3 separate regions of the Homo sapiens genome follow, and regions 1 and 3 are each reported to be linked to region 2. Evidence: microRNA targets listed by miRTarBase, many of them from high-throughput screens and not tested one by one. Region 2 holds a microRNA gene; each other region holds the end of a gene's coding sequence.
What was found. The annotated mature microRNA hsa-miR-127-3p reads UCGGAUCCGUCUGAGCUUGGCU and lies in region 2 at 1,400-1,421, shown strand. An mRNA with a match to its seed (bases 2 to 7 or 8) in the 3' UTR can be bound and repressed. Matches are read on the target gene's strand: a 7mer-m8 pairs with bases 2 to 8, a 7mer-A1 pairs with bases 2 to 7 and ends in A, and an 8mer does both.

Region 1 (4,167 bases), not on the chromosome of region 2:
TTTGCTGTGTTGGCCAGGCTGGTCTCAAACTCCTGACCTCAGGTGATCCACCCCCCTGCCTTGGCCTCGCAAAGTGCTGCAATTACAGGTGTGAGCCTCTGTGCCCGGCCCGATATAAACTATATCTTAATAATCACACAACACATTTATCACGTGTCCTTGCTAATTAGGGGTTACAGAAAACATGGTAAGTGGCATCCAAAAATAATCTAAAAAAGTCCTGCATTAATCATTAATTCCAGTGACTTTTCCAAATAATTATTACTTTTCCCCCTCACATTTGTGAATAGCTCACACATTGTTAGTGGGGGACCGGCATTTGGTTGGTCCTAAGAAGATACAGGCTGATGAAATTTCTAAAAAGTGAAATAACTCCCCATTTAGTAGTTTAGTACATCAGAGAGGTAAAATCTTGCAGCAGCGGTCCTGGGAGGGAGGGTGGAGGCCGGGATGAGGAGAGTGTCTTGCCTGCTTGGTAGCTGGTTCCCTTGACTTTCTTCTGAAATGAGTGTCTTTCTGTCTGCCTGTTGCCTCTCGTAGCCCGAGTTCTTTCAGGTCTGCCACACCAAGAAGGACTATGAAGAGTACGGGCCCAGCATCTGCCGCCACAACCCCGTCTTTGGAGTCATGTCCTAGTGTCTGCCTGAACGCGTCGTTCGATGGTGTCACGTTGGGGAACAAGTGTCCTTCAGAACCCAGAGAAGGCCGCCGTTCTGTAAATAGCGACGTCGGTGTTGCTGCCCAGCAGCGTGCTTGCATTGCCGGTGCATGAGGCGCGGCGCGGGCCCTTCAGTAAAAGCCATTTATCCGTGTGCCGACCGCTGTCTGCCAGCCTCCTCCTTCTCCCGCCCTCCTCACCCTCGCTCTCCCTCCTCCTCCTCCTCCGAGCTGCTAGCTGACAAATACAATTCTGAAGGAATCCAAATGTGACTTTGAAAATTGTTAGAGAAAACAACATTAGAAAATGGCGCAAAATCGTTAGGTCCCAGGAGAGAATGTGGGGGCGCAAACCCTTTTCCTCCCAGCCTATTTTTGTAAATAAAATGTTTAAACTTGAAATACAAATCGATGTTTATATTTCCTATCATTTTGTATTTTATGGTATTTGGTACAACTGGCTGATACTAAGCACGAATAGATATTGATGTTATGGAGTGCTGTAATCCAAAGTTTTTAATTGTGAGGCATGTTCTGATATGTTTATAGGCAAACAAATAAAACAGCAAACTTTTTTGCCACATGTTTGCTAGAAAATGATTATACTTTATTGGAGTGACATGAAGTTTGAACACTAAACAGTAATGTATGAGAATTACTACAGATACATGTATCTTTTAGTTTTTTTTGTTTGAACTTTCTGGAGCTGTTTTATAGAAGATGATGGTTTGTTGTCGGTGAGTGTTGGATGAAATACTTCCTTGCACCATTGTAATAAAAGCTGTTAGAATATTTGTAAATATCTTTCTGCTGTAGTGTGGTGGTCTGTTGGTTTTCTCCCTGTCGCTGTGCCTCCTTTAAAGAATATTGACATTGTTTTACATCATTGGAGAATTTGATTAATACTCAGCTTGTGGGAGGAAATGTCTTTTCGCGAATGGTGTGGGCTGCCTGCCCCGCAGTGACCACTCCATCGCTGGGGGTATCGTGGGTCTGGATAACCCGTCAGAGATGGTTTTTGAATCTGGGGTATAGTGGGAAGGAGTGCCTAATGATTTCTGATGTTCCTTCCTAGAAGTTCAGGATTCATGACTGTAAGCTTTCAGTAACTACTCTGATGTTTGCTGAATGGACTGCTAGCTTGAAAGGTAATTTGCTCAATTAATAGATTTAGGTTGATTTCACTCTTCATATTATTCTTATAATTATGTTACTTTAAAAATTGTTATTTATGGTATTTCTTCTAAGTTGTGAAGTATGTTTTTTTTTTGTTCTGTTTTAAAATTTTTTCCTTAGTTTCACTCTCAAAGGAGGTGAATGAAATATGTTTTGTTCTCAGAAAATTTGCCTTCATAAAGAAACGTAGCCAGGTGCAGTGGTGTGCGCCTGAAGTCCCAGCTCCTCAGAAGGCTGAGGCAGGAGGATCACTTGAGTCCAGGAGGTCAAGGCTGCAGTAAGCTAGGATTGAGCCACTGTATTGCAGCCTGGGTGACAGAGTGAGACTCCATGTCTTAAATAAAACAAAAACAAGAAAAAAAAAGTTATGTTATTATTTGAGTTTAGAAATAAGTTTAATATTGAACTCAGTATGGTGAAATCTGAGTTTACCAACCTCAGTTGACCGAATCTCTGATACTGTCACTGTGCTAGGCCCTCAGTCTCCCCAGTCAAGAGTCTGGTACCACCTGGTTCTCCCCTCATCCGTAGTGTTTCTCTGCATTCCCTTGGGGGATTTGCTGCTTCTCGGGATTGCTGTACCGTTGGCTTCTCATGATCTTCCAGCCATTTTATTGCATCAAGTTCCCGGTTGGTCTGCCTGCCTTCAGTCACACCTTTGCACCCTGAACGTGGCAGCGAGAGCCGTTCCTTCTAACGCCATTTTCCTCTTAGTTCTGTGCTATTCAGGGACCTACCTGATACTCCCATCTCCACCCTGCCCCGCCCGATTCAGCATGCTTTGCACATCTCACAGTGGGCACCGTCATTCCCACCTCTGCTCTGCATCTGTGCGTTGGCAGGTGCTTTGTTGCGCCTTCTCCAAACCCTGGGAATAACACCACTCTGTATGTCAGTGCTGTGGCAGCCTGGCTAAGCTAGAGCTGTATGAGCTGTCCTTCCACCACAGGATACCCAAAGCTTCCCTGTGCCTTCTTTGGTACAAGATTAGCTTTGAGATTGTACTTCTGTTTGTCAACTTAAAGAACTGTGGGAGAATATATATATATATATTTTTTTTTTAAATTTTTTTTTTAAGATGGAGTTTTGCTCTTGTCCCCCAGGCTGGAGTGCAATGGCGCAATCTTGGCTCACCACAACCTCTGCCTCCCGGGTTCAAGCGATTCTCCTGCCTCAGCCTCCTAAGTAGCTGGGATTACAGGCGTGCACCACCATGCCCGGCTAATTTTGTATTTTTAGTAGAGATGAAGTTTCTCCATGTTGGTCAGGCTGGTCTCAAACTCCCCACCTCGGGTGATCTGCCCGCCTTGGCCTACCAAAGTGCTGGGATTACAGGCGTGAGCCACCGTGCCAGGCCGAGAACATTTTGTTTTAAACCTACATTGACAGGACAGAATGATCCATTACAATGTGACAGGTATGATGCTGTGGTTCTCAACCCTGGGCAAGACCCATCCCAAATTAAGAGAATCAGAATAGGAGCCCCAGGGAAGGCATCCAATTTTTGCTTTTTGTTTTTAAACTCCTTAGGCAATGCCAGCGTAGCTGGATCTGAAAGGCTTATGAGCAGAAGGAAGGGTTTTTGACTCAAAAAGATCTGAATACCAATTCTGGCTGTTCCTCAAGCAAATGAGATCCTATTTTCTGTTTGCTCATCTGTGGGAGAATTGTAATGGTCCTTTTCCTGTTAATAGAGGTGAGTTATCATTTTTTGTTTATTCAGTGAGCCTGGCAGATACTATAGATAGAAATGAACTGTGATGGTCATGTGCACCCGTCATTTTATAAGGAAGAAAAATGTTTACAGTTAGTAAATTTGATAAAATCTGCACATACCTTTTGTTCAGGTTGAATGAGTTAGATCATAATATAGAAATGAGTTAAGTATTCCTAGAGTTGATGGGTAAAATCGACCTCCTATGACAAAACTACAACTCCAGGTGAGCAGTTTTCTGTAAAAAATATTTCATCAAATACACTCGTTAAATTCTAAAATTATAAGTCTACAGTCTTTAGGACTATTAAACCTTTTAATAGTGCAGGAGCCAGGTGTGGTGGTGAGTACCTGTAGTCTCAGCTACTGGGTAGGTGGAGGTGGTAGAATCCATTGAGCCCGGGAGCTCAAGGCTGCAGGAGCCAGGGTCATGCCACACACTCCAGCCTGGGCAACAGAGTGAGACCTTCTTAAAAAGTGCAGGAAGTTGCTTTGCCCTATTCAACAGATTTAGACATAAACTCAGCTTTACGATGGTGAGAATATGATACGAACGGCCTTAACTTAAAAAAAAAATCTGGCAACTAGTATGTGAATATTTAACAAACATTACCTTTCTA
Region 2 (4,167 bases):
CAGCAGCTCTTGCCGTAGGATCTGTTCATTGAGCTCATCCTGTTCTTCATTCTCTTCTTCCCCGGATTCCGTCGATGGATCCCTGGGGAATCCCCTTGAGGCCAGCAGCAGGGTTTGCCTGGCGGCAGTGTTCCTCTGGAAGGCTCTCCTCCACCGGAGGTTTCTCACAGGTGGCAGAGCTCGGCCGCCGTCTTGTTCTGGCAGCTCCATGACGTCAAAGTTGAAGTGGGAGAAGAAGAAGACCCAATGCCCGGGGAGAAGTACGGTGAGCCTGTCATTATTCAGAGAGGCTAGATCCTCTGTGTTGAGAAGGATCATGATGGGCTCCTCGGTGTTCTCCAGGTAGCGGCACCACACCATGAAGGCAGCCCGTATTGGAAGAATCTTCATCTCCGCTTGAGAGTACTCAACCTCGATAGGGGAGATGTTGCGGGAGTAGAAAGCGCAGCAGGCTCTCTTGCCGGTTTGGTCGTCGATTTGGATCAGGGAGGCGTGCAGGGCCGTGCCGGTGACGCCGGTTTCCAAGTAGAATGGGTTCTGGGGCTTGGGGTGGTGGAGGAGAGGCGCCTTGCGGAAAGCCCTCTTCAGGCACTCGAAGGCCTCTTGCTCCTCGACTCCCCAGTAGAACTGGTAGGAGCTCAGCAGCTGCCGCACCAGGGGCTCTGCGATGATGCTGAAGCGCTCCACGAAGTGGCGGTAGGGGAAGACGAATTCGATGAAGTTTCGCAGAGATAGCTTGGAGCCAGGGGTAGGGTACCCTGTTATGATGGTCATGACGTTCTTGTTCAGTTTCACCCCTTTGGGGGTGACGACGAAGCCCAGGAATTCCACGGTTTGGCGGTGGAACTGGCTCTTGTCCAGGGAGCAGTAGACGTTGTGATGGCGGAAGCGGACCAGGACTTGGCGGACGTGGTGGAGGTGCTCCTCCTGACTCATTGAGTAGATCAGGACTTCCTGGCCATAAGAAAGCACAAAGAACCCTAGCATGTCCTTTAGGATGAAGTGAATCACGTTCTGAGGTATGATAGGGTCTGGGGAGAGCGCAAACGGCTGGTAGCTCTTCATCTCTTCAAGCTCCAAACCAAACGCTGCTTTCCACACATCTTCGGTGCGGTGCCCGTTCACGCTTTCCTCCACAATGGTCCCACGCAGCTCCAGTTTTGTGAACCACTCGGCTCCGTGTAACTGGTCAAACAGTTCCGGAATCATCTGTATGTAGTCCTGTCTGTTGGTCAGCATGTCCTGCAGGTCCCAGTATTCCTCCTGTAGCCTGGCTCTTTCTTGCATCCTGGCACCCACAGGTTCCCAAGGCGCGGTGGAGGGACACTCGTAAAAGGTCTCGCTGTGATCACTGTCTCCAGCCTGCTGAAGCTCAGAGGGCTCTGATTCAGAAAGATCATCGGATCCGTCTGAGCTTGGCTGGTCGGAAGTCTCATCATCTGCTTCCTTCGGGTTAAACACGTCGGCCAGGTCTGAGTATGGGTGTGGCAGTCCGGGTAGCAGGCTCATGCCGTGCCTCTCTAGGGCAATGCATGGCGGGGGCGGGCGGAAGCAGTTCTTCAGGCAGTAGGGAGAGTGGAAGGTGCAGCGGCCTTTGATCCAGTCGACTTCGGGGGCGTGGACTCGGAGCCAGCGGATGCCTAGGACCACAGAGAAGTTCGGTGAAGGTACGATGTCAAATTCGATGGACTCCTGGTGGTTCTGGTGGATACACACCAGGGGCTCCGTGTAGAGCCAGACAGGCTCGTTGCCAATCAGCGAGCCGTCCACGGATTGGACCGGCTGTGGGTACGGCTTCTCGTAGAGCTCGACGTAGTGCTCTTGGGCGAACTTCTCATCCATGAAGTTGCCGTCAGCTCCCGAATCCACCAGGGCCTGGACCGCGACGCTGTGGTAGGGGTTCACTCTCACCATGAGCAGCAGGAAGAGGTGGGCGCGATTGATGTCCGGATGGACTTCGCTGGGCAACCAGCTGCTGACCATCCACCTCTCTGGAGCAGGTGAGTCGATCCAGGTCAGGTTCCGGGGGCGGGCCTCGGGGGGCAGCCTGAGCATAGCTCTTCTCTCTGCCAGCTTCTCTTCTATTTGCAGGATGAGCACAATCAGACTGTCTAGGGAATCCGGCTGAGGGACCCGGAATAGATAGTGCCTGATCTCCTCGTTGAGCCCCTGGCACAAGTGGGCCTGCAGGACTTCATCTGGCCAGCCCAAGATGGGTACCAGGCTCTGGAACTCATCGATGTACTCAGTGGCAGAGCGGCCGCCCTGCCTGATGGTGAACATGGCCTCTTCTGCCACACGCAGTGCCTGGCGGTACTCAAACACTTCGGACATGGCCTCCAGGAAGGCTGGGAAGTCTCCGATCAGGGGGCTGTTTTCCTGCAGTAGAGCTTTGGCCCATTCTAATGCCAAGCCGGACAGGTGATTGATGACATAGCCAACTCTCAGACGGTCGTTATAGAACATTCTTGGGTAGCTCTGTAAGGTCAGTTGGCAGAGTACGATGAACTCGTGGAATTCTCTGCGATCGCCAGAGAAGTGCTTTGGGGCGGGCAGTTGGCCTGCATTGATCCCTTTGATCAAGATCTCTTCTGCTACTCTCTGTTGCTCTTTGAGGTCTTGCATTCGGAAGTACAGCGAGATGATGGACCTCACCATGGCCATAAGTTCTGCGGTTGAGTGCTCGGTCTGGTTTTGCTCTTGAGGAGTCTCCTCCCTTCCCGATTCCTTCAGGTCAGTGTGAGCCTCTTGTTCTTCTCGGGCTCCCGATGGGTTGACTGATGCTTCTTTCATCCTATCAGATGCTCCACTGAGTGGATCCCCCCTTGCCTGGTGTGAACCGTTGCATGACTCCTCCAGGTCTTGGAGTAGGTCATTGGGTGGATCCTCTATTTCCTTACGTGGGCCACTGGATGGCTCCTCCATGTCTTGGAGTAGATCAGTGGGCAGCTCTTCCATTTCCTGGAGTGGGCCACTGGGGGGCTCCTTCTTTTCCTGGGCTGGGCCGCTGGCTGGCCCTGCCTCTCCCCGCACTCCACTGCCCGACGTCGCCTCGGTGGTGTTGGATGAGCCCTCGGAGGACTCCATTTGTTTTGATGATGGATTCTTATGCTCCATCATCGTCTCAAATGAGTCTTCAGAGGGTTCTATCATTTCGTCGGATGGAAAGGAGTGTATTCTGAAGATTGGTAAGGTTGTGATGGCGTCCAGTCAGTAGCTGGGACCGTGGAGATCAGAACCTGGTGGTGGAAGGGGAGTGTGGGGAGTAAAGGCAGTAGTTTAGGATCTTGTGAAGTGGCAGTATCAGGGTCTCAAGGACAAATCAGATGCCCAACTAATCAGAGCAGAGAGAAATGGGGGAAAGCCTTCTTGTATCGAGCCAGCCTCTTTGGCTGGTCACTTGGGGTGCCCCCAGGGAGGGAAGATCTGTCAACCCCTGACCTGCCTCCCAGGCTTATTCAGTCTGCCTGTCCTGTCCTTTTCCTCCATAGATGTGAGAAATTCACAGCCCATAAATTCTGTGGCTGGGAGCAGCCACCGTGGCAGGCGGGTACCTGGCAGGGTGCACAGGCTGCTCCATTCCCCCCTGGCACATGCACCTGGTCAATCCTCTTTTCCTGCTTTGGTCACCTGAGAATCACAGAGGTCACATCTCAGCACCATCCAAAGCCACCCCTGGCAGGCTCAGGGCTCTGGAGCAAGCCCAGCCACCTTGGTTGTGGAGCGGGAATCTCTAGCAAAGATGCCTACTGTTTCACCAGTGCAGTGGAAGAGGAGAAAATGGGCACTTGGCCACTGTCCCGTCAGTTGGGTCAGCAGCCCAAAATAGTTCTTATTTCCTTCCCCATGTTCAAAATAGAAATTTCAGGGGGTGTGTACAGGTCTGGGTTTTTTTTTTTTTTTTCCATAAATTTTATAACATACCTACTATGTGCTGGATAACTGCATATTTGTTACTTGATTCTAACTCAGACTTTTGGCCAATTTCTCTTTCTCGATTTGGTCTCCTTCCAATGCTATGTTCTCCCGACCTCTGAGCTGTTGAGGAGATCTTCAAATAATCTCCTTCTCTTCCTACAATCTCCACTCTCCCAGGACTGCCCTCTTTGTGAGGCTTCTGGAACTTCACACATCTGGCCTCAATTTCACCAGTGCAAGCATATCTGC
Region 3 (4,135 bases), not on the chromosome of region 2:
AGGCTGACGTCCTGGTAGCAGGAGGATGGGCTTTCTCATAGGCAGAGCCCATTCCTCGTGATCATGAGGCCTGCGGACAGGTTCCCGTGTGGTGTGATATGACCCTCGAAGTCCTCAGACCTCTCGGTACCACATTAGGCCCTTGTCAGCTAGTCAGTCACACCCTAGTATCAGCTGGCTCAGGGACTAGAGTTTTTATTGAGAGGAGGGGGTCTTTTGAAGTCTTTTGAAGGTGTCCACCCCGGATATCCTGCCACTGAGCTGCAATGTCTCTGTGTGTCCAGGCCCTGGGGACCTAGAGGAAACATTGAAAGGTGTTGTGCTGGGTAGACTCACTCTGGCTTCAGGGTGTGAATTCTAAGTCTAAGTCTCCTCTCATCTGTGTTCCCAGGAGCAGGAGAAGGAGGCCCGGAGCAGGGCGGCCTACATCTCTGCACTCCCCACATCTCCGCACTGGGGGAGGGGCTTTGATGAAGACAAGGATGAGGATGAAGGCTCTCCAGGGGGCTGCAATCCTGCAGGTGGCAATGGTGGTGACTTCCACAGACTGGTCTTCTAATGTGAACCTGCTGCCAACCTGACCCCTTCCCTCCAGGAGCCAGGTAGGGCCTGAGGGAAGCTGTGGAGGCAGGCCCTACCAAGAGGAAGGATGGTACAGCTCATGGCACCTTAGTCCTCAGCCTGATGAAGGGTACACAGAGATTCTCTCAGATATGGAAGTAAGACCTAAGTCCCTTTCATTGGGGATCAGTCCCATTAAAACTTTACACCCAAGTGTCCTGGTTAACTTGAAGCAGCCGAGATGGGCACACACGGGTCTTTGCCTCCCCCTCCTTCCCTAGCAGGCTCCCCATGCGGGAAGATCTGATGATGTTCAGGAAACAGGCTAGACCTCAGCTCCAATGTTTTGACATCAAGTACTATTTTCCTTCCGACTGCTGTACGGTATAAAGCACAGCAGGATCCAAGCCTTGCACAAAGGGGTGGGGGGGGCAGTGTCTCCTCTGGCTGTCCTGTTTGTTTGTTTCTCATATGGGGGTGGGGGGTACCTGCACTGTCTGTACCTTTCTGAGAAGAACAGAGACCGAGACCTGCCCCCTTACCAAGCGCCACTGCATGGTTTTGGGGGGGGGGGCGGGGGGCTAGCTTCTCACAGCAGGAGGCCTTTGCCCCCACAGCCCCTCCACGCCTGCCTCAGGGCCTGAGAAGCCACCACTTGTATCCCCCTTGTGGTTAGAGTCCTGATTTTACTGCAAAGGTGTTCATGTTCCTTGTGAAGTGTGGGCTCTTAGGAAGCCTGTGGGCTCCTCTGAGCAGTTGGCCTTTGTAGCTGCAACAGCAGCCACCTGCAGGTTGGGTGAAGTGCCCTGACACTGCTGTAGCCCCCTTCTAACTTCTAACCGAAGACAAGACAGACACCCATGTTCATAAATAAATAAAAGTAAGCCTAAGCAAGAGATTGTTCTTCCTTGGACTCAGGGGCTGTGATGGCCACTGGGTTTTGCTCACGGGGTCTGGGGAGGCCAGGACTCAGCCTGCCCCCCAGTGACGTGTGAGATGCCACAGGGAGCCAAGAGCCCTCTACTGAATCTACTGAAGTGGGGTGTAAGTAAACGTGTGGACTGACTGACTTACTTACCTTACTGAGGGCTGGGTGATGCTGCCCGTGGAGAGGATGCACCTGGGAGGCAGCTCTCAAGCCTTTACCTACCTCCTTCCCCAGGGGCTGCCTGCTGTGATGGTGGTGTGGAGTTTGGGCCCAATGTCACAGACCCTCAAGATGTCACATCTAAGTGACCTGTGAAAGCAGCAGACAGACACGCCCAGAACCCATCTCTAGACGCCTAAGAAAGCTGGATGGGTAAATGCTAGTATGATTTCCACTTTACAACAGACGCTGAGGTAGAGAGCATTTGTTCTTATTCACAGCCAAGAAAAATACCCAATTATTTCCAAATAAAGCAAAAATTGGAACAGACTGGAGTGAGAACGGGTTCCACCACCAAGCCCCTCAAGACAAGATGGACACGGCAGCTGGTTCTGGGGTGCATTTCTAGTGGACTTTATTGTCCTGCTCCAACACCACAGTAGAAAGGGACCTGCAAGCTCCAAGCCTGTACCATGTGTCACCACAGCAAAAACATGACCCACTTGAACACACTCCTGTCCCACCCACCGGATAAATATGTTACAATTTAAAAAAAAGAATACAACAGAATAAATTAATAACTTAAGTGATTAGGCACCAACAGTGATTTGAAAATTAAATGTCAATTTTAAATGGTAACAAGACAAGAACTCAAGACTGGGCTTCCACTAGCCCATTTTCTCTTCCTGACAAACAGTGACAATTCTGCGTGAAATAATTCTAGATTTCAAGACACAAGTAGCCAACAAATACACAACACATGCCACCATAAATCACATGACAGCCTGGATCTCTTGGGGACCCCCTCGGCAGGTACCCCATTGTGGTCCCAGGTCCTAAACAGCAGGGCTAGTCCCAGAAAGACGACCCCCCACGGAAGGGCTTTAGCGCTCCTGAGACCAGTCTGGCTTCCCCTGCATTTTATGAAGGCCCAGATGGGGAAGGAAGAACTCTGGAAATGGGATAGGGGTGCTGGGCCGAGATGTCCCCATGGGAGAAGGGGCCAGAGGGAGGATGAGCTGAGCCCATGCTCCAGTAACTTCAGAATGGTTGTGCTTTTGTCACAGGAATGGGGCATACTTTGTTAACTTCTACATTGGAAACCACTAAAGTCAAGCTAGGAGGGGACTGGGGATAGGTACTGCCCACCCCAATCCCCCAGAAAGAAGTTACAGAGGAGGGAGTCTCCCCTTCAAGCAGCTGAGCACCAGCTGTGGATGGGACCTCAGCGCAGCTAATCCAACCTCCCATTCCACAGACAGGCAGATCAAGGACTTAAGGAGACACCATCTCCCTATTTCTCATCGTTCTCACTTGACTTAACCTTGCAGAAGTGGAGCTGGAAGTGGGTGAAGAAGGCTCCTTGGAGAGCCCCAGGCAGGGGGCCTGTGTGAAGCAGTGCTGAGTGGGAAGGTATCCCCTTTCCGTAGGCTCAGTCCTCTCCAGGCCCCCAGGAGAGGTGGACTTTGACCCATGGATAGGCCAAAGGACCAGTTTTTTCAACTGAGTTGACTCCTTTGTTGGAGGAGGTAGTGGGTGGAGGGTGGGGATATGCTAGATACGGCTGGTAGTTTGGGGCCTGTGAGCCAGAGCTTTGCTTTCAAAAGGTCAATTTCACCTCTCATCCTTCCATCTCTACCCCTACACTTGCACCCGAGGGATTTTGGTAGTTACCAGAATAGGGGGCTGGAAGGAAGCCTCCTGGTAGTTACCAGAATAGGGGGCTGGAAGGAAGCCTCCTGGGAGATTCGATTTGAACACCTCAGTCGCTCTCCGAAGATTCCAGCCAGGTCCACTCACATCATGGCACACTCAGAACATGCTCACATGTTTATGGGAGGCTGCAATAGTCTGGGCCCACTTGTGGCTGCTGCGGGTACAGGGAAGGCACCAGTTAAAAGCTCTGTCGTATGGGGCCCCTTGTAGGGGGCCTTTAAGGCACACATTCAGGGCTGGGCAGAGTGAACCAGCACCCTGCCAACTCTGCCCAGTGTAGCTACCACCACTGCTTCCATTCACTTATTGGAACACCAAGGCATGGCCCCTACACTTCTGAGTGGCTGGACCCATATGCTCAAAGGCCTTTTGTTCCCAAGACACAAGGCTTTCCAAGCCTCTCCTTCCTTCTTCCTCCACTGGACCCAAGCCCTGCCCTCCTCCTCTGTAAAAATCTGACTCATCCCCTTCTAAGGCCTACCTCAGGCACTCCCTTTTCCTAGAATCCACCTTCCCTGATCCCCCACTCCTGCCTCTGACACCAACCTCCCTAAGTACTTCCTCTGCCCTCCATCAGCATTTGAAGTCTCTGTCTGATGGCCATCACCACTGTCTCATGTCCTTGTCCTTTTTCTGATTGTGGCTATCTTAAGTTCAGGGAGAAGGTCTGATTGATTCTTGTGTCCTTAGTGCTTAACCCCAGAAACTGGAGACAGCAGCCATTAATAAATACTCCTTGAGTTGATCTAAACTAATGCTAGGAGGAGAGGT

Region 1: miRTarBase lists ACTR3B as a target of hsa-miR-127-3p. The part of its 3' UTR that is shown has no 7-base or 8-base seed match.
Region 3: miRTarBase lists USP35 as a target of hsa-miR-127-3p. The part of its 3' UTR that is shown has no 7-base or 8-base seed match.

What each region holds. Positions count from the first base shown.
Region 1 is chr7:152,853,918-152,858,084 of GRCh38, forward strand. ACTR3B (actin related protein 3B) reads left to right here. Exons shown (of 12, transcript NM_020445.6): 12 at 541-1,461. The coding sequence ends at 636. Among named protein-coding and RNA genes, the nearest start is that of ACTR3B, 96 kb to the left of the region's middle.
Region 2 is chr14:100,881,636-100,885,802 of GRCh38, forward strand. MIR127 (microRNA 127) reads left to right here and starts at 1,344; the gene lies at 1,344-1,440. It overlaps RTL1 (retrotransposon Gag like 1), which reads right to left. Exons shown (of 4, transcript NM_001134888.3): 4 at 1-3,239. The coding sequence starts at 3,153. MIR433 (microRNA 433) reads left to right here and starts at 251; the gene lies at 251-343. MIR432 (microRNA 432) reads left to right here and starts at 2,848; the gene lies at 2,848-2,941. It also overlaps MIR136. RefSeq lists a silencer at 4,057-4,167.
Region 3 is chr11:78,213,255-78,217,389 of GRCh38, forward strand. It overlaps USP35 (ubiquitin specific peptidase 35), which reads left to right. Exons shown (of 11, transcript NM_020798.4): 11 at 392-1,978. The coding sequence ends at 559. GAB2 (GRB2 associated binding protein 2) reads right to left here. Exons shown (of 10, transcript NM_080491.3): 10 at 2,039-4,135. Among named protein-coding and RNA genes, the nearest start is that of USP35, 26 kb to the left of the region's middle.